Linked DNA regions of Homo sapiens: region 1 is linked to region 2. A link means that fine-mapping ties the variant in region 2 to the expression of a gene that starts in the linked region. Tissue or cell type: whole blood. Region 2 holds a variant in brackets; the other region holds the start of a gene. All regions are shown on one strand. Distances are between the middles of the regions.

What was found. PIP is the estimated chance that this variant, and not a neighbour inherited with it, causes the effect. A credible set is the group of variants that fine-mapping cannot tell apart.
Region 1: SLC2A6 starts here. The variant in region 2 is the best candidate, but not a certain one, in a credible set for the expression of SLC2A6 in whole blood (TOPMed, PIP 0.84).

What each region holds. Positions count from the first base shown.
Region 1 is chr9:133,473,175-133,483,244 of GRCh38, forward strand. It overlaps SLC2A6 (solute carrier family 2 member 6), which reads right to left and starts at 5,925. Exons shown (of 10, transcript NM_017585.4): 1 at 5,794-5,925; 2 at 5,080-5,242; 3 at 3,861-4,067; 4 at 3,063-3,162; 5 at 2,226-2,437; 6 at 1,787-1,939; 7 at 806-914; 8 at 241-426; 9 at 1-76. The coding sequence starts at 5,885. RefSeq lists enhancers at 5,455-5,514, 5,935-6,436 and a silencer at 5,675-6,324.
Region 2 is chr9:133,441,224-133,451,293 of GRCh38, forward strand. ADAMTS13 (ADAM metallopeptidase with thrombospondin type 1 motif 13) reads left to right here. Exons shown (of 29, transcript NM_139027.6): 17 at 1,176-1,311; 18 at 1,391-1,520; 19 at 2,153-2,338; 20 at 3,640-3,829; 21 at 4,476-4,596; 22 at 7,376-7,505; 23 at 8,560-8,742. Among named protein-coding and RNA genes, the nearest start is that of CACFD1, 14 kb to the right of the region's middle. The variant T/C (reference allele first, on the strand shown) is at 5,775.

The DNA of each region.
Region 1 (10,070 bases), 32 kb after region 2:
GCCACGCCACGGGCACGCAGGGGCAGGACCTCAGACATGAGCAGCCAGGTGATGGGACCCCAGCCCACGGCGTAGCCTGCTCGGAGGAGGAGGCAGGTTCAGGCCCTGTGGGGTGACTGGAGGCGGCTGTGTCTGTCTCCGCTGAGCTGCTGGAGACCCCCCTCTCCAGCCACCCCAGACACATCACCCATCCCTTAACACCCAAGACAGCCTGCCCCTCTGAGCCACCACCACACCTACCCATGATGAAGAGCATGGTGGCCAGCAGGGGCACCAGGGTGAGGTAGCCAGCGGGTGCTGCCAGGGGCTGCGCCAAGTCCCCCCAGGACTCGCTTTCCAGGCCCGCAGTGCTGTTGGGGCTCAGAGGCCTGGGGCCAAAGTGGATGTACAGCCCCAGAGTCAGGTTGGCAGCAAACATGATGGCCGCTGTGGACAGACAGGTGGCCTCGTGGGGCCAGGACCCTCTGAGCCAGCTGTTTCTCTCAGAGCTCCTTCTGCAGAGCCCCTTGATACTTGCGTGGTCCAGCTCGTGTCTGGGACTAGAGACCCCCAGCAGGGCAGCAAGCTCTGTCTCCAGCCGCGTGTTAGGCTCCCACCGTGGAGTGTCACAGCCAGTGTGTCCACTCGGAGCCCCAGCGGACCTTTCTGGACCACTGGCCTGGGCCAGGGCCCTGCCGATGCTAGGGAGGCAGGTGCTCTGCAGTTCCCAGCCACACAGCCCCACCCCGAGGCAGGCCTGCACACCCAGCCCAGCCCTGACCCATGCGGAGGAGTGGGGCAGGAGGGCTGCCTGCAGGGTGCTTACCTGAGACGAAGAGCAGCACCTTGCGGCCTGCGAGGTCCATGGTGAGGGCGGCGATCAGCACGGACAGGAGCCGCACGGCCCCAACGATGGCTGCGTCGTCCTTGGGGGGCTATCGGGGGGAGACCACCAGGGCTGAGGGACCTGCCTGCTGTTCCCATCCCCCTCCAGGACCCAGCTTGTCCCGGCAGGCATTGCAGGGGCTCAGGCCAGCAGCTCAGTGCAGTACTGAGTGGCCTGGCACCTGCAGCGTGCTGGGCATCTATACTGTCCGAGCCTATGGGGCTCCTGGGCAGGGACACATCTGCTCTGCCCACCACTATGCCCAGCTGGCACAGAATCCAGGCGTGATGATGACTTGCTGAACCGTGCTGTTACTAATCTTCAAATCTCATCTCACTTTGAGCCTTGGGGCAGGCTGATGGAGATGTGCTGCTATCTTCATCTTGCAGAGGAGGAAGTTGAGGTTCAGAGGGGAAAGTGACTTCCCTCATTAAGTGGCAGATGCCACAGGGCTCTGAACCTGGGGTCTGTGGCCTCAAGGGGTCCACGTTTCTATAAAGCTGGTTTCCTTTGTAATCCCATGTATTTTATTTAATTTTTAAAATTTCTATATGTTTTTAGAGACAGGGTCCTGCTCTGTCACCAGGATGGAGTGCAGTGGTGAGATCGTGGCCACTGCAGTCTCACACTCCTGGGCTTAAGTGATCCTCCCGCCTTGGCCTCGTGTTGGGATTTTGCCAGTATTTTATTTTAAAACACTTAAGCTTATCTTAAAAACATTCTGAGAACAGGTGAAGGCACTGGAACTGTCTCCACAAGGCCCAGATCTCAGATCTTGCTGTGGCATCCCTGACACCTGGCACAGAGCAGGTGTGGGTAAGACCAGGGGTTGGGTAAGTGCAGGAGCAGGCCCTGCCTCCCCTGCCCTGCCAGCCTCCAGGGGACCCCGTGGGTGGGCGCCGGCCGGGGCTGGGCTCTCACCAGCAGGACAGCGGTGCTGTCGAAGATGGACTGCAGGTAGACCAGGATGGGCGTGATGCCCGTCAGCTGCTGCAGGAGGCGCATCAGCAAGGCCACGGTGATGGGCCGGCACACGTGTGGGGCCCGTGCCTCAGCCCACGATACTCGGCTGCTCTGAAACACAAGGCCGCCGCTGAGGGCGTTGGGCCAGCCTCTCCAGCAGGCGCCATCCTGCCCTGGACCGCCAGGGGTTGTGTGGGAGACCTCCTTTTTCCCTCCTCCAGGAAAGAACCAGCTTACCAGGCCACCCAGGCTCTGGGAACAGCCCCCCACCCCAACCCAGGCACTTGGATTAGTGGGAACTACTGTGGTCCTGTCTTCCAGGAAAAGCCTCCACGGCCACACACAGCTGAAGTGCTGGAGGTGGGCCTGCCCGGTTCGGGCGCACACCCTCCTGCACCTGTCTCCGGACGTTGTCCTGGATCTGCTCGAACTCCCAGTGGACATCGACGTCCGTCCCACGCAGCCAGGCCAGCGCCCGCAGGGCCTCTTCGTCCCTGCCCCGAGAGAGCAGGAAGCGCGGCGAGTTGGGCATGAAGCTGAGCAGCAGGATCATGATGAGCACAGGCGCCTCCCCGGCCACAGCCAGCCAGCGCCACGGCAGCAGGAGGCCTGGGGGCGAGGGGTGGGTGAGGGGCCAGGTCCAGGCCTGGTACAGCCCCTTCCCTCTGGAGCCTCTGAATAACCTCATCTGCCCTTCAAGGTCTAGTCCAAGGGCCATCTCCTACAGGAAGCCTACCCTGATTGCCCCAGGCAGGGTGGGGCTGCAGGGATTGCTCAGCCCCTGGCACATAGTGGGAAGTCCTTGGAAAGTCTTAGGGCCAGGGCAGGATGAGGAAGGGGTAGGTTGGGCAGGCAAGGCCCTAGGCCTCCACCCAAGACCTCCACGCCCCCTCAACTGAGCAGCTGCACGCACTGTGATTTCTTTTCTATCTGGACTTCCCATCTGAGATGGCATTTGATGGAAGCTTTCTGCCGTTAAAAGATAGTCTGGCGACTGTGGGTCCAGGAGAAGCCCTGGCTGCCCCAGCTAGAGACTGGGCCTGTGGCTAGAGGGGCAGGCCCTGCCTGGAGGTGCCCAGCAAGGTGCTGACTGAGTGGGGCCGGGATGCCAGATCTCTTGCCTCTCAGCCCAGGATCTGTTCTGGGACAAATCATTCCCTTTCCACCCACGTCTACCTTGGCGGCACCCACCCCTCCCACCAGCCTGCACACAGGAGTGCGGGGCCATACTTGCCAAGGGCGTAGAGGGACAGGGATCCGAACACTGCCATGAGCTGGGGTGTGGCCCCCAGAGCCCCACGAACGCCTGGGGGAGCAATCTCAGACACGTACACCTGCAAGACACAGCCGCCGCACCAGGTTTTGCTGAAAATACTGGTTCCTAGGCCCGGCCGAGATGGGAGAGTCAGCCCCTGTGAACCCCGGAAAGTGGGAAGTGGAGGCTTTCTGGTGGGGCTGAGTCCTGGTCATGACTCACTGCAAGACCTTGGGCGGCCTGCCTGATCTCTCTCTGTCCTCAGTTTCCCTAACTGTGACGTGGGTGGAAGTACGCAGCTCGGAAATGGGCAGCATGACGCTGGGAAGGAGGCCCGAGGGCTCCCAGGCTTCAGGGCTGAGCAGGTGAGTCCATGCCTCCCAGTGAGTTTTGTCTCCTCTGCTGGGCTCACCACCAGGCCCCGTGTGGAGTACCACATAAGATAAGAAGGTCCCGGGGAGGGTGTAGGGCAGGGACTTCCCTCTCCTACCCATTGCTCAATGCGGATTTTCTCCAATTGAGTAATACATCTGACCGGTCAAGAAACGGGGTAGAAGGCTTGGAAAGTCCAGAGTGGGGGCAGCTGGGGACCTGGAGACAATTTCCCCCAAATTAGCTGCCCTGCTGGGGGTGAGCTGAGGCGCCCTGGGCATCCGCAGGGAAGGCAAACAATTCTCATTGCCCAGAAGGCATGGAGGCTGGGAGGCCTTAGTCAGATGGAGGCTCAGCACCAATACAGAGGCATTGGGGCGCCTGGGTGGGAAGGCCTGGCCTTACCGGGATGCAGGCAGCTGTGAGCCCCCCGGCGAAGCCCGTCAGCGTCCTTCCGAGCAGCAGCATCCAGAGGCCGTGCGCACCCGCCATGAGCGCATAGCCGGCCGCCGACGGCACAGCTGAGAACATGATGCTCAGCTTCCGGCCCAGGAGGTCGTTGAGGATCATGGCACTCAGGCCTCCGGCCGCTGCTCCCAGGGTGAACACGGACTGCAGGGGAAGGGGGTGCAGGGCAGATATGTCTGGGCACTTGGCACCCCAATCTCATCAGAGTCCAGGGACAGCTTCTTCCCTAGGCCGACCCCAGGAGCTGGTCAAGCACTTGGCCAAGTCAAGCACTTGAAACAGGGAGCCTCCTGTCTTCAAGGAACAGCCATTTGTTAGGGATGCCCAAACGGGGAATTCTGCTCTAAGGAAGAGGTGCTGCGCCACATATCCACAGTGGTTCTGTCCAGCCTGATGTTTAAATGTCTAATATTTTAATACAGGAGAATTCTGTGACTTGAAGGTACTGGGCTTTAAGATTTGGAGGTTCTTAAGTTCCCTGTACAGCAGCAACTGGGACCCCCTCTGGACTCTGCTAACTGGTAGTGGGACCTGGGCACATTGCCCAGCCTGTCTGCACCTCAGTTTCTTCAGCTGTCTTATGGGGAGAGCGCAAGTTCTACCTCGTGGCGTTGGCCCTGAGAATCAATGAACGTTCAGTGCCCAACACATGCCTGGCACATAGGAAGTGCTCAGTAAACCTTGGGAATTTTTATCTTAACTACTATGTTAACAACTCTACATATGAGGCTATTAAGATTATAATTTTAGACTCTGGGACTCTGGGATCTTCCTCTCCATCAGCCCACAATCTGTCCTGCGGACTCTCCTTGCCCCAGCCAGTGCCTCTCCCCACTGACACCTGATACCCTTGCCCCCATCCAGCCAACTGTGGGTGTGGGGACCCGGGGAAGCCTCAGCCCCACCTAGTATAGACCCTGACAGCCACCTCCCCACCTGCTCCTTCCCTCACCCTCTCCACTGGCTTTCAGTTCCTCATTTCAGAGGAATCCTGTAGCTTTACCCCACCCACTAGTGGCCTGGATGGCTGGGGGAGGGGGGACCAGGGCCCTGGAGGGACCCCCAAGGTGGAGAATTTGGGAGGTTCCTAGCTGGAGATAAGGCTCAGCAGGTCCCTCCTTCCTGCACCCACCCTCCTCCAGAGGATGGTCCTTACCCCAAACCAGGATGCCTGGGATTTGGTCAGATGCAGGTCAGGATCCAAGGAGCGCTCCAGGGCTGGGATGACAGGGGATGTGTAGACCAGGGCATACCCAAAGCTGAAATTGCCGAGCACTGCGGCGAAGGTGGCCAGGAACACCCTTTTGTTCTGCAGGGTCCTGGTGATGGTGGCGGACAAAAAGACCAGGGTCTCTGAGTCCCTCCTCCAGGGACCATTGCCTTTTCTGAACCCAGTGGCTGCCCGGCTCAGCGGGCAGTGCTAGGGAGGCCTGGGTCCAAGGCCATTCACGTTCCCAGGGCCTGAGCCCCAGCTCCCCTGGGAAATTCCCAGGCCATTGTTAGCTCATCCGCAGTGGCTGAGCCTCTGGTGCTGGGGCCTTTTCTCCGGAAGAGGAGGCTCTGGTTCTGCCCCCAGGGCGGCGGCTGGAGGCTTGCTGTGTGACCTCAGGCAGAACCCCTGCTCGCTGGGGCCTCAGTCTCACTGTCTGTGGCAGTGGGGGGCTGGGCCCGGTACTCTCGTGGATCGTTCCTTCCCTTAGGGGGACCAGTTCCTTAAATAGGAGTAGCGTGTCTGGGACAGGAGGGAGCCAGATGGCCCCTCGGTGGCGACTAGGTCAGGGGAGGCCCAGGGCGGGAGCCTGCCGCCGGCTGGAGGGAACCAGGGCCACCCCCAGGCCCCACCCGCAGCCCCCAACCTAGCGACTCTCACCCGACCCGCGCCCTGTCCCCTGGCGACGGGGGCGGCTTCTCGGGGAAGGTGTCGTAGTCCGGGCCCTCGGCTCCCAGCAGCGGCTCCTGCATGGCCGGGTCTCTCTCGGGGCGAGCGGAGGGCGCTCAGACTGGAGCAGCCGCCCGGGGCCAGCAGCTCCGAGGGCACCGGCCAGGCTCCGCCCCTTGGCCGCTATTGGCTGTGGGACGGCCCTGCAGAGACACGCCGGCCAATGGGGCGGCCGCAGGCTGTCCTGATGCTCGGATGCGGACCCGGCTTCCCCGGGCGCGGCCGGCACCGCGTGCGCCCCCGAAGGTCACGCCCCAAGACAGGATGGGGGTCCCAGGGCGGAGCCCCTGCTGGATCGTCCGGGGCCCCCGCGGAGCGCCGGAAGCGGCTCACCCGGCCCGGCTCTTGCAGGCGTGACTGCGGCAATGCGCGCAGCCCCTGTCGTACTCGCTCCCGCGGGGTGGAAACCGAGGCCCAGAGAGGCGAAGCCGAGCGCCAGGGTCACAGCGAATGCGCACCTCGCTCCTCCTTACGCTCTAGCCCTCCCCGTCGCGTGGCGTCTCAGGGCCACCTCTGCCCTGGCTCTCCCTGGCACCAGGGAATCGGGGTGTGTCAGGGCAGCAGCGGATGTGCGGGACGAAGGAGGCAGGAGGGGCCGGCGAGGCGCTGTGGGCAGCTCCAGTGGGCGAGGTCTGTATCCTCCACCCCAGGCTCTGGTGGTAGAAATAACCTGAGCTCGTGACACGTAACCCAGGTAGTAAGATAACATTGAAAAATAAGAAAAGCAGAAATGGAAAATTCCCGGGAAGACCGTCCTCAAAAAATCCCACAGCAGTTCCACCTCTCCCTTTGGGCCTTTTCGGGAAGAGGACGGAATCACGCCCTGCTCTGTTGGATGGACGTGCCACACACGCTTTTAAACGGAGCCTTTGTTGCTGAGTATTTGGGTCATTTCCCATTTTAGCTATTAACATGGTAAAGCATTTTTAAAAGTTAGAATTCCCTTTTATTATGATTGAAATACAACCATAATAGAACAATAAAATCACATCCATCTCCCGTCAGCCTGACCTTGATGGCGTTTTAGCCTCTTCCAGTCTTTTCCTCATGTGCCTATTTTGCATATTTGCTATTGGGGCCCCCATTAAACTGTGCAGCCCCTTTACGTCACCGTTTTCTTGCCATCAAGATCATAGGCTTTGGACTCAGGCACACCCTGGTATGGTGATCAGGCTGCACAGTCCTCGTGGCCATATATATACGTATATACATATATATGTGTATGTATTTTTACATATCTATATGTGTATTTTTTTTTTTTTTTTTGAGACGGAGTCTCGCTCTGTTGGCCAGGCTGGAGTGCAGTGGCACGATCTCAGCTTACTGCAACTTCCACCTCCCGAGTTCAAGCGATTCTCCTGCCTCAGCCTCCCAAGTAGCTGGGATTACAGGCATGTGCCACCACGCCCGGCTAATTTTTGTATTTTTAGTGGAGACGGGGTTTCACCATGTTGGCCAGCTTGGTCTTGAACTCCTGACCTTGTGATCCTTCCGCTTCAGCCTCACAAAGTGCTGGGATTACAGGCGTGAGTCACCGCACCCGGCCTTCTCTTTTTTTAAAATGTATTTTTTTTCTTTTAAAATCAACTTTAGGCCAGGTGCAGTGGTGTGTGCCTGTAATCCCAGCATTTAGGAGGCCAAGGTAGGAGAATTGCTTGATGCCAGGAGTCTGACACCAGCCTGGGCAACAAAGTGACCCTGTCTCTACAAAAAGCTAAAAAAGTTGTCCAGGTGTGATGGCAAGTGCCTGTGGCCCCAGCTACTCGGAAGGCAGAGGTGGGAAGATTGCTTGAGCCCAGGAGTTTGAGGCTGCGGTGAGCTGTGATCACACCACAGCACTCCAGCCTGGGTGACAGAGGGAGAGCCTTCTTGAAAAAATAAAATACAAGAAAAATCAACTTTGTTAAGCTATAATTTATATACAGTAAAATGAATCCATTTTAAATATAGGTTGATGAGTTTTGACAATTGTATAACCCCAAACACCCCCAATCAAGATATAAAACATTTCCACCTTTTCTTTCTTTCTTTTATCTTTTTTTGAGACAGAGTCTCTCTCTGTTGCCCAGGCTGGAGTGCAGTAGTGCGATCTCGGCTCACTGCAACCTCCGACCACTGGGTTCAAGCGATTCTCCTGCCTCAGCCTCCCGAGTAGCTGGGATTACAGGCGCCCGCCACCACACCTGGGTAGTTTTTGCATTTTTGGTAGAGATGGGGTTTCACCATGTTGGCCAGGCTGGTCTCAAACTCCCAACATCAGGTGATCCTCCCGCCTTGGCCTCCCAAAGTGCTGGGATTACAGGCGTGAGTCATCACGCCCAGCCCATTTCCACCCTTCTAGAAGGTTTCTTTGTGCCTTTCTGAGGTCAACCTCCTTTCCCTGCTCCCCAGTAAACTATTTTTTTTTTTGAGAGGGAGTTTCACTCTGTCCCCCAGGCTGGAGTGCAGTGGTGCGATCTCGGCTCACTGCAAGCTCCGCCTCCCAGGTTCATGCCATTCTCCTGCCTCAGCCTCCTGAGTAGCTGGGACCACAGGTGCCCGCCACCATGCCCGGCTAATATTTTTTTGTATTTTTAGTAGAGATGGGGTTTCACCATGTTAGCCAGGATGGTCTTGATCTCCTGACCTCGTGATCTGCCGGCCTCGGCCTCCCAAAGGGCTGGGATTACAGGCATGAGCCACCGCGCCCGGCCTCCCCAGTAAACTATTAATCTGCTTCCTGTGACGATAGATTACAGTGGTCTTATAAAGAGAACCTATGTGAAGCACTGTTTTTTTGTCTGCCTTCTTTTTTCAGCATGTTTATGAAATTTATCAGTGGTTTGCTGATGTTCAGTGGTTTGTTCTTATTTGCAGCCGCGTAGTGTAGTGTTTTACGGATGTAGCACAGTTTTTGGCTAAAAGAATGAGCCGGTGTGAGCCTTCTTGCACAGAACCCTGCTTAACAGCCTTTTTTTTTTTTTTTTGAGATGAGTCTCGCCCTTTCCCCCAGGCTGGAGTGCAGTGGTGCCATCTCAGCTTACTGCAAGCTCCACCTCCTGGGTTCACGCCATTCTCCTGCCTCAGCCTCCTGAGTAGCTGGGACTACAGGCGCCTGCCACCACGCCCAGCTAATTTTTTGTATTTTTAGTAGAGACGGGGTTTCACCGTGTTAGCCAGGGTGGTCTCCATCTCCTGACCTCGTGATCCGCCCGCCTCGGCCTCCCAAAGTGCTGGGATTACAGGCATGAGCCACTGCACCCGGCCCTGTTTCACAGCCTTTTAATGTTAAAGGCTGGGTGGATGAGCTTGAATTTGTAATGAATCTTCTGTCATGGGCATCAAAGCTGTTTCAAACTGTAAGGGTAGAAAAGGTGGAATCCGTTTCCTCACCCATTGTTACAAGACCAGCAGATCCACATGCCTGCTCCACCGTGACACCACGACACACCAGTACACCGTGCAGCAGGGTTCGCAGCAGGGAAGAGTTTAATGATTGCAGGGCTCTGAGCAAGGAGATGGGAGGAGATCCTCAAATCCATCTCCCCTAGGAGCTTTGGGCTGGGGCTTTTAAGGGGATCATGGAGGGCGATGGGCTTTAGAAGTGGGTTGTTGATAGGTCTGGGGATGGGAGGTAAAATCATCAGGAGGTGGAAAATGTATTCTTTGGTGAATCAGGTCCTCCTGGGGTCCTTGAGACCAGCTGTCATCAGTAGTTTCTTTCTTTTTTTTTTTTTGAGACAGAGTCTCACTCTGTCACCCAGGCTGGAGTGCAGTGGTATGGTCTCCACTCACTGCAACCTTCACCTTCTGGGTTCAAGCGATTCTCCCACCTCAGCCTCCAGAGTAGCTGGGAGTACAGATGCATGTCACCACACCTGGCTGATTTTTGTATTTTTAGTAGAGATGGGTTTTCACTATGTTGGCCAGGCTGGTCTCGAACTTCTGACCTCGTGATCTGCATGCCTCAGCCTCCCAAAGTGCTGGGATTACAGGCGTGAGCCACCGCGCCCGGCCGGTGTCAGTAGTTTCATTGGTACACAGGACCCAAAAGAACATCTCAAATGGAAACTTTTGACTGGGCGCCTGGCCAACATGGTGAAACCCTGCCTCTACTAAAAATACAAAGAATTAGCCAGGCATGGTGGCGTGAGCCTGTAATCCCAGCTGCTTGGGAGGCTGAGGCGAGAGAATCACATGAATCTAGGAGTGGAGGTTGCAGTGAGCCG
Region 2 (10,070 bases):
GGCCGGAGCAGCGTCCTCTGCCCCTACAGCAGCCAGAGACAGGAGGGCCTCCCACAGATCAGGCCAGGCCGGGCCAAAGCAAGCCCCTGTGAGCGGCTTATCCCTTCTCTTCCCCTGATATGGTTCCCTTCCTCCCCTCCCCTTGCCTGGGACATTGTATCCAGATGCTAGCTGCCGAGTGGCTCTCCCATCATCCTCTGCAGTGTGTAAAAAAGCAGATTCCCGGGTCCTCTGCATATTCCCTGAATCAGGACTTCCCTGTGTTGGGCCTGAGAAACCGCACCGTAACCAACACAGGCTTGCGGCACTGGCCAGATGTGGGCATCGAGGGGGCAGGTGCGGAATGTCACCTCGCCCTGGGCTCTGGCCTCCAGGCTGGCCTCTTTCTTGGGCTGGTCTTGGGCACAGGACCCAGTTACCCTCCTGAAGAGCCTTAGGCCCAGGAACCTGCTGAAGTTCTTCCTAGTGCTCTCCGGGCCAGTCCCAAGCCAGTAGCTGGCCACAGGTCCCCAGGGATCCAGTTTCTTCCTGCCGACCCTACCACAGGTCCCCAGGGATCCAGTTTCTTCCTGCCGACCCTACGGGCCTCAGCTCTGGCTCCAGAAGCACTTTCTGTGCTGGCCCTGCCCTAGCCCTTCTTGGGCTCCTTAGCCCAGCCTAAGGTGGGCCTGCCTCCTCCACTGCACTTTATCCTCTACCCAGCCAGCTTAGGGAACCTTCTCTGTGCTGCCCAAATACCCTATCATGTAACCCACCAATGACTTGGTAATTACCTCCCCGAGCCCTCTATCCCAACCCACTGAGAGCTCCTTGCAGCTCAGCCAGTGTCCTGTGCACTGTGCTATCCCCAGAGCCTGGTACAGGTCAGTGTTGGTGATTGCTTCCCGTTATTTTTGTCTTTGTTGTTTTTTTAGAGAGGGTCTCACTGTTGGCCAGGCTGGAGTGCTATGTTGCCCAGGCTGCTCTGAAACTCCTGGGCTCAAGTGATCTGCCTGCCTCAGGCTCCCAAAGTTTTGGGTTTACAGGCATGAGCTACCGTGCCTGGCCAGTGATTGCTTGCTGAACGAAAGATTATAGGGATGCAAGAAGAAGTTGGAAGGCTTCCCAGGGGAGGTGGCCATGACAGTGACCCTCAGGGAACCCACTGGACAAGGCCTGAAGCTCTTTGTCTGCAGGTTTACAGGCGGTATGGCGAGGAGTATGGCAACCTCACCCGCCCAGACATCACCTTCACCTACTTCCAGCCTAAGCCACGGCAGGCCTGGGTGTGGGCCGCTGTGCGTGGGCCCTGCTCGGTGAGCTGTGGGGCAGGTGAGACCTGGGGAAGGCTCATCCACAGCACGGCTTGCCCCTGCAGGGAGGCGGCCTAGCCCTCCCTCTTCCCTCCCAGGGCTGCGCTGGGTAAACTACAGCTGCCTGGACCAGGCCAGGAAGGAGTTGGTGGAGACTGTCCAGTGCCAAGGGAGCCAGCAGCCACCAGCGTGGCCAGAGGCCTGCGTGCTCGAACCCTGCCCTCCCTAGTGAGTGTGGTGCTGTCTGCGCAGCTCCAAGGGGGAGAGAGGGTTCCGCTGGGGCTGCTGGGCTCTGTCCCTGGCCTATGGGGCCCATGTGGCAGGGCCGGGCTGAGCTGCTCCTGTGCAGGCTCTCATTACCCCTGCCCACAGCCCTGCAAGGGGGGCTCTGTGAGTGCCCCCATTCTGCAGGTGAGGACACTGAGGCTTGGGGCAGACATGGTGACAATGTCAGCCCAGTGGGACCCACACCTGCTGCCACCTTGTCTGGGCCACCGAGGCCTCTCTTGAGCTCAGGTACTCATGGTGAGATGGAGGTGATTGCCTACCTGGAGGGTTGTAGGGAGACTTGCGGAGCTCCTGGTGCAAAGCCCCTGGCTGTCACCACACCTGACGGGGCACACTGTTAGGGACGAGGCCATTCCTGCTGGGTGCAGGACAGGGCAGCTGCTCACCAGCCTGTGATTCGGTTGTCCTCAGGCTCAGCCGTCTGGCAGCCTGGGAACACCTGGAGAGGCTAGGCTGGCCGTAGTGCCCATTGCTTGTCCCAGACCGGGGGAGTACATCAGCACCTGCCACCCCATCACCCCAGGCCAGCCTGGGACCTGGCCAGGGTCCCGACGCTCTGTCTCCTTCCTCAGCTGGGCGGTGGGAGACTTCGGCCCATGCAGCGCCTCCTGTGGGGGTGGCCTGCGGGAGCGGCCAGTGCGCTGCGTGGAGGCCCAGGGCAGCCTCCTGAAGACATTGCCCCCAGCCCGGTGCAGAGCAGGGGCCCAGCAGCCAGCTGTGGCGCTGGAAACCTGCAACCCCCAGCCCTGCCCTGCCAGGTGAGCCCAGGGCTAGGTGGGGCTGGGAGAGGGCCTTCCTGGCAGAGCTCGTCCCTGCGCTGAGCCCCCATCCTTCTGAGAATCCCCTCCTCCTGAGGCCTCCGGCGGGGCCTCACCATCCAGGGTGATGGGCAGTGTCACCTGGCGGTTGTAAGTGCTGCTGTCAGAGTTCCTTACTACCCAGGAGAGCCTGGGCCCATTGTTTCCCTCTCTGAGCTTCCGAGCCCCTGCTCTGAAATGGGGATGCCGACCTGCCTGGGGAGGGGGGGCTTCGAGGATGAGGTCAAACTGAACGGAGTGGGAGATGTCACTTTCTCATCACCACCATCTCCCCCGTGCCCACGTGGCTGCATCTCATCCCCTCAGTGTCCAAGTTGACAGTGGCTTATCATCCTGCCCTGCCACTAACGAGCTGAGTGACAGGGCAAGTCCCCTCCTCTGTGGGCTTCAGTTTTGCGACCTGTCCGGTGGGAGGGGATTGGTCTGGATTGTTGGTGGCCCACTCATAGCTCTGGACTCCTTTCCCCGCCTCGTCATCCGTGGCAGACAAAACAGTCACCACTCTTCCCCGCTGAGGCCAGATAGGGCCTCAGAATCCTTCTCACACAGCTCTCCAGGCAGCCACTTTAGCGCAGGGCTGACTCACAGCTGAAACCCATTGGCCACCCTTGAACCTGGTGATCCAATTCCATGTGGCACCTGTTTCTCTGCACCTGCTATGGTGCATGGAGTCAGTGATTACCTGGCTGGAGGTCGGCCTCTGCCTCTGGAGAGTAGGAGGGATGGGTTCTCTTTTTTTTTTTTATTAAAAGACAGAGTCTTGTTCTCTCACCCAGGCTGGTATGCAGTGGCATGATCTTGGCTCACTGCAACCTCCTGCCTCAGCAAGTGTGCGCCACCAAGCCCAACTAATTTTTGTATTTTTTGTAGAAACAGGGTTTTGCCATGTTGCCCAGGCTGGTCTCCAACTCCCGGGCTCAAGCAGTCTGCTCACCTCAGCCTCCTAAAGTGCTGAGCTACCGTGCCTGGCCAGGGATAGGTTCTGTCTCTGCACCCTGGGTGCAGGTGGGGTGCCTGACTGTTGAGCAGCGAGTGCTTGTTGAATGGGAACCTGCTGGCTGATGAATGGGGAACCCGGTGCTTCAGGGAGAGACCCTGAGCTTCACTTCTCTGTGGGGCTCCTCTTTGGGCTCCTGGATGTTGGGGAGCAGGTCCCCTTCCTCCCTGCCCCTAGCAGCTGGGCTATACCTTCCCCTGGGTGGCAGAGGCAGGGCCTGATGACTGTCTCATGCCATCCTCAGGTGGGAGGTGTCAGAGCCCAGCTCATGCACATCAGCTGGTGGAGCAGGCCTGGCCTTGGAGAACGAGACCTGTGTGCCAGGGGCAGATGGCCTGGAGGCTCCAGTGACTGAGGGGCCTGGCTCCGTAGATGAGAAGCTGCCTGCCCCTGAGCCCTGTGTCGGGATGTCATGTCCTCCAGGCTGGGGCCATGTGAGTGCCCTGGGCATGAGGGTGGCTGGGGCTGTTGAGTCCTTTACCTGGCTGGGAGAACGAGGAGCACCCATTGCCACCGTCCTCCAGGCCAGAGCAAGAACACCATCCTTCTGTGGGAATGCTGTCTGAGGGCCACCCCTGCTCAGAAAAGAAGCTTAGAAAGAGGGCTCAGGGCCCCTGGGAAGGCTCCCATTCCCCTTGCAAGCCGGGCTGAGGGAAGCATCTGAGGAGAGTGTAATGCAGCTGCTGTGCAGAGAAATGCTGCCAGGCTCCCGCCTGGCGTCCAGGGGCTGGAGGCTGACTGGCCTTGCTCTCTGGCCTGGGTGCTGGCAACCCTCGCCCCTCATGGCTGGGGGGATTGCAGGGCCAGGCATGCTCCCATGTCCCACTCTTGGTCCCCAGCTCTCGGCCAGGCCCACAGTGAGCACTCATGCTGCTGAGGAGCCTGCAAAGGTGGGGTGTGCAGCAAGGATACCCGCTGCGAGACCGGGGAGCCGATCTCGCCAAGGGAGGAGGGGAGGGAGCCCCTGGTGCACACACGCCACTTCCTGGTCTCTCTGCTGCTGCCTGAGAAGATCGAGACGGGGATCGCTGGGTCCTCAGAGGAGGCCCAGACCCACCAGCTTGTTGCTATTCCCCACAGCTGGATGCCACCTCTGCAGGGGAGAAGGCTCCCTCCCCATGGGGCAGCATCAGGACGGGGGCTCAAGCTGCACACGTGTGGACCCCTGCGGCAGGGTCGTGCTCCGTCTCCTGCGGGCGAGGTGAGGGCCCCCGGGATGCTCCTGGGGACCAGCACTCATGGTAACTCTCCTGTCCACTTGCATCTTGCCTCGTTCTGAAAAGCATTTGAGGTGGATTGCAGAAAATCCAGACTATATGGGAACACGTGGTAATACACAAGGAGACTAAGCATAGTAGCTGACAGCCACTTCAAATGTGGGTGTTGATTGGCTGAAAGGTAGGAAAAGACAATAACGCCCGGCAGTGTGGCACGAGAGCCATTCCTTATGGTCCTAGCAGAGCGGCCGGGGGGTCCCCAATTGATGACCCGAGCAGAGAAACCTTAGCTTTAAGATACACAGCGTTCTTCTATTTTCCCAATCTTGTTTTATTGCAGTATAACACAGATATTATAAAATTTACCATCCAAACTGTTTCTCCCTGTGCAGGTCAGTGGCATAAAAGCACAGTCACATTGTTGTGCGGCCATCACCACCAACCTCTCCAGAACTTTTCCAGTTTCGCAAACTGGAGCTCTGTCCCTGTGAAACACGAACTCCCATTTCCCCCTCCGCAGCCCCTGGCAACCTCCATTCTCCTTTCTGTCTCCAGATTCCACAATTCTAGGGACCTTGTAGAAGTGGAATCATATAGCATTTGCCTTTTTGTTACTAGTTTTCACTCAGCATGATGTCCTCACAGTTCATCCATGTTGTAGCATGTGTGAGTGTTTCCTTCTTAAGGCTGAAAAAGATTCCATTGTGAGTGTATCCTTTACAGGTTTATCCATTTATTCATCAGTGGACACTTGGCTTCCTTCCACACTTTGGCTATTGTGAATAATGCTTCTGTGAACATGGGTGTGCAAATATCTGTTTGAGTTCCTGCTTTCAGTTCTTTTGGGTGTATATCTAGAAGTGTGGTAGCTGGGTAAGATGAGAATTCTATGTTTAATTTTTGTGGAACTGCTGGACTGTTTTCCCCAGTGGCTGCACCATTTTACATTTCCACTAATGGTGCATAAGAGTTCCAATGTCCTCCCATCCTTGCCAACACTTTTTATTTCTATGGTTTTTTTTGTTTTTGTTTTTGTTTTTGAGACAGAGTCTCATTCTGTTGCCGAGGCTGGAGTGCAGTGGCATGATCTTGGCTCATTGTAACCTTCGCCTCCGGGGCTCAAGTGATTCTCGTGCTTCAGCCTCCCGAGTAGCTAGGACTA[T/C]AGGCGTCTGCCACCATGCCTGGCTAATTTTTTGTTTAGTAGAGATGGGGTTTCACCATGTTGGCCAGGCTGGTCCCAAACTCTTGACCTCAGGTGATCTGCCTGCCTTGGCCTCCCAACGTGCTGGGATTACAGGCGTGAGCCCCCACACCTGGCCTATTTCTGTGTTTTTTTTATAATGGCCATCCTAATGGGCTTGAGAAGACACACCATGTTCTTAAACGAAAACCCTGACCACTTGCTCAGTAAAATGTCAGCCTGTTTAAAACCGAGACCAAAAAGAGATTTCTTTTTCTCTCTTTTCTTTTTTGAGACAAAAAAGAAAACCTCTGTCACCAGGTTGGAGTGTAGTGGCACAATCTTAGCTCACTACAACCTCCACCACCTGGGCTGAAGCCATCCTCCCCCCTCAGCCTCCTGAATAGCTACTATACCCTGCTAATTTTTGTAGTTTTGGCAGAGATGGGATCTCCCTATGTTGCCCAGCCTGATCTCCTGAGCTCAAGCGATCCTTCTGCCTCGGCCTCTCAAAGTGCTGGGATTATAGGCATGAGCCACTGTGCCCAACCAAGAGATTTTTTTTCTTTTTCTTTTTTTTCTTTTTTTTGAGACTAAGAGTTTTCCTCTGTCGCCCAGGCTGAAGTGCAGTGGTGTGATCTTGGCTCACTGCAACCTCCGCCTCCCATGTTCAAACGATTCTCATGCCTCAGCCTCCTGAGCAGCTGGGACTCCAGCTATGTGCCACCACACCTGGCTAATTTTTTGTATTTTATTTTATTAGAGAGGGGGTTTCGCCATGATGGCCACGCTGGTCTCAAACTCCTGACCTCAGGTGATCCACCCGCCTTGGCCTCCCAAAGTGCTGGGATTACAGGCATGAGCCACTGAGCCTATTTCTTTTGAGGATATTCCTAAAAGAGAGACTTGAGAAAACTGGCCCTAATAACATCTTTATGATAGACACAATCAGAGATTTTCATATTGTGATTTTTTTTTCTTTTTTTTTTTTTTGAGATGGAGTCTCGCTCTGTCACCCAGGCTGGAGTCCAGTGGCGCAGTCTTGGCTCACTGCAACCTCTGCCTCCTGGGTTCAAGTGATTCTCCGTCTCAGCCTCCTGAGTAGCTGGGATTACAGGTGCGCACCACCACGCTCAGCTAATTTTTGTATTTTTAGTAGAGACGGGGTTTCACCATGTTGGTCAGGCTCGTCTCGAACTCCTGACCTTGTGATCCGCCGCCCAAAGTGCTGTGATTACAGGCGTGAGCCACTGTGCCTGGCCCATATTGCAATTCTTATAATGCCTCTCGGTCAACAATAACAGCTACCATTTGTCAAGTGTCTACTGTGTGCCAGGCACTTGTTATCTTCCCTTTTAAAAATCTTTATAAATGATTCTGCAAGGTAGATGCCATTATCTTTTTTTCTAAATCTAAGATTCAGAGGGTTAAGTCAGTTGTCTGAGGTCACACAGCTGGTAAGTGGCAGAGCCGGGATTGAAACCCATGCGGGCCTTATGTGCTAGAGGTGTCCAGTGAGCCTGGGCTGCAGTCCTTGCTGAGCCTGTCCCTTGGGGCTCTGGGTCTCTGCTTTGTCCACGCAGGTCTGATGGAGCTGCGTTTCCTGTGCATGGACTCTGCCCTCAGGGTGCCTGTCCAGGAAGAGCTGTGTGGCCTGGCAAGCAAGCCTGGGAGCCGGCGGGAGGTCTGCCAGGCTGTCCCGTGCCCTGCTCGGTGAGTGAGGGGAGCAAGACTGTGTGCTGGCCTTCTCCCTGTAAGTGGGAGACCCGAGCCTTGGCTCCATGCCCGGTGACCTGCGGAGGGGGGCAGGTGCTGCTGGCTGTGCACTGTGTGAGGCTGGACCATGGCCGCCCCATCCCCCTGCCTCACTCCAAGTGCAGGCCAGAGCCCCGGCCCAGCCCCTTTGAGGACTGCAACCCAGAGCCCTGCCCTGCCAGGTGGGCCCCTTCCCAAGGAGACAGGGGGTGCTAGGTCTGCATCCTGGCTCTTTCCTCACCTCCAAGCCAGACCTTTTGACCCTCAGTGTCCTCACCAGTGGGAGCAGGTCATTTTGTGCCCCCAGAAGACTGGGGGAGTTTAATGAAAGGATTAGATGCATGTAAAGTACATGCTAAATGCAATGAGTGTAAAATGCATGCTCGATGCAACGCGTGTAAAGTACATTGCACAGGATCTGGGATGCTGTGGGTGCACATGGTTGCTGGTGCGTTTCTTCATCGCCTGCTCTTTATGGAGCACCTAGGCCCCGGGGCCGTCCTGGAGCTAGGGGACACAGCAGAGAACAAGGCAGACAAATGTCCCTGACCTCCTGGAGCAAATGCAGGGGGAAAGGGGGACAGATAATAATAGGACAGGCGGGGAATGCAGTTTGATGGATGGTGTTCAGTGCGATGCAGCCAAACACAGCGGGAGGGGAGGAGGGGAGGGCTGGCGGGGTGGGCTCCAGGGCGGTGGTGCTGGGATCACTGTTGAAGACAGACATGCAGGGCCCTTGGGTGCCCGGACCCCTGCCCCCACTGTCTCTGGGATACGACATCTGTCGTTTGCCCTCACCTTTCTCTTCTGTAAAATGGGTTTGTCCAAATGTTCTGTCCACTCTGCCAAGCCTCTTGGTGAGGACACAAGGGGGCCTCCAGAAAGAGAACCTCTCCGGGCCCTTCCCAGCTTCCTGTCTCTTCCTAGTCTGGGGAAATGAAGGGGAGACCTGGCTCCCCTGGGTTCCCAGGCCCTGGGGCTGTTTGGGGTCCCTGACTCCAGTTTGCTCCAGGTGGCAGTACAAGCTGGCGGCCTGCAGCGTGAGCTGTGGGAGAGGGGTCGTGCGGAGGATCCTGTATTGTGCCCGGGCCCATGGGGAGGACGATGGTGAGGAGATCCTGTTGGACACCCAGTGCCAGGGGCTGCCTCGCCCGGAACCCCAGGAGGCCTGCAGCCTGGAGCCCTGCCCACCTAGGTGAGTCAGCCGGTGATGGGAGGGGCAGCTCCTGGTGTGTGCAGATGCCAGGCCAGGCGCTGTGGTGTGTGCCTGTAATCGCAGCTACTTGGAAAGCTGAATCAGGAGAACCACTTGAGTCCAGGAGTGCAAGTCCAACCTGGGCAACACAGTGAGACCTCATCTCTAAAAAAAAAACAAGACGGGGCCAGGTGTGGTGGCTCACGCCTGTAATCCCAGCGCTATGGAAGGCTGAAGCGGGTGGATTACCTGAGGTCAGGAGCTTGAGACCAGCCTGGCCAACATGGTGAAACCCCATCTTTACTAAAAATACAACAATTAGGCTGGGCGCGGTGGCTCACTCCTGTAATCCCAGCACTTTGGGAGGCTGAGGCGGGCAGATCACCTGAGGTTGGGAGTTCGAGACCAGCCTGTCCAACATACAGAAACCCTGTCTCTACTAAAAATACAAAATTAGCCGGGTGTGGTGGTACATGCCTGTAATCCCAGTTACTTGGGAGGCTGAGGCAGAATCGCTTGAACCGGGGAGGCCAAGGTTGTGGTGAGCCAAGATTACGCCACTGGACTCCAGCCTGGCTAACAGCAGCAAAACTCCATCTCAAAAAAAAAAAAAAAAAAAGAAAACCCACAAAAATTAGCCTGGCGTGGTGGTGTGCACCTGTCATCCCAGCTACTTCAGAGGCGGAGGCAGGAGAATCGCTTGAACCCGGGAGGCGGAGGTTGCAGTGAGCCGAGATGGCGCCGCTGGCACTCCAGCCTGGGCTACAGAGCGAGACTCCGTCTCAAAAACAAAACAACAAAACAAAACAAGACGGGGTGGGGGGCTCAGTGGCCCAAGAGCCAGTCTGTAAGGAATAGGGCTACCTGGCAGGCTGTGCTAGTTGTGGGAGGTGAAGTTTAAGCACCATGCAGGCAGGGTGCAGTGTGGGGAGGCCTGGGGGACAGAGGAGGCAGCATTTGAGCAGAACCTAAAGCTGTGAGCACCAGCATTCTGATGTGGAAGACGGGAGGGATGGAGGTCTCCACAGGGACACACACAGCCACACTAGGACACGGGACAGAATCATGTTCAAGTCCGTGGGGTCCGGAGCCCAGTGGTAAAGGGCGAACATTTGCCTACCTCATTTACAATTCTTTAATGGTTTCTTTTTGTAGGTTTGCATTTTTAGTAAAGAAATACTTTTCTATATCATACAGAAACGTCCAGAAAAGAATGTAACAGACATGTATGTTCCAGCACTCCAGTTTAATAGATAGCATCCTACTGCCATGTTTCCTTCCTGTCCACTTACTTTTATTTATTTAATTTATTTATTTTGAGACGGAGT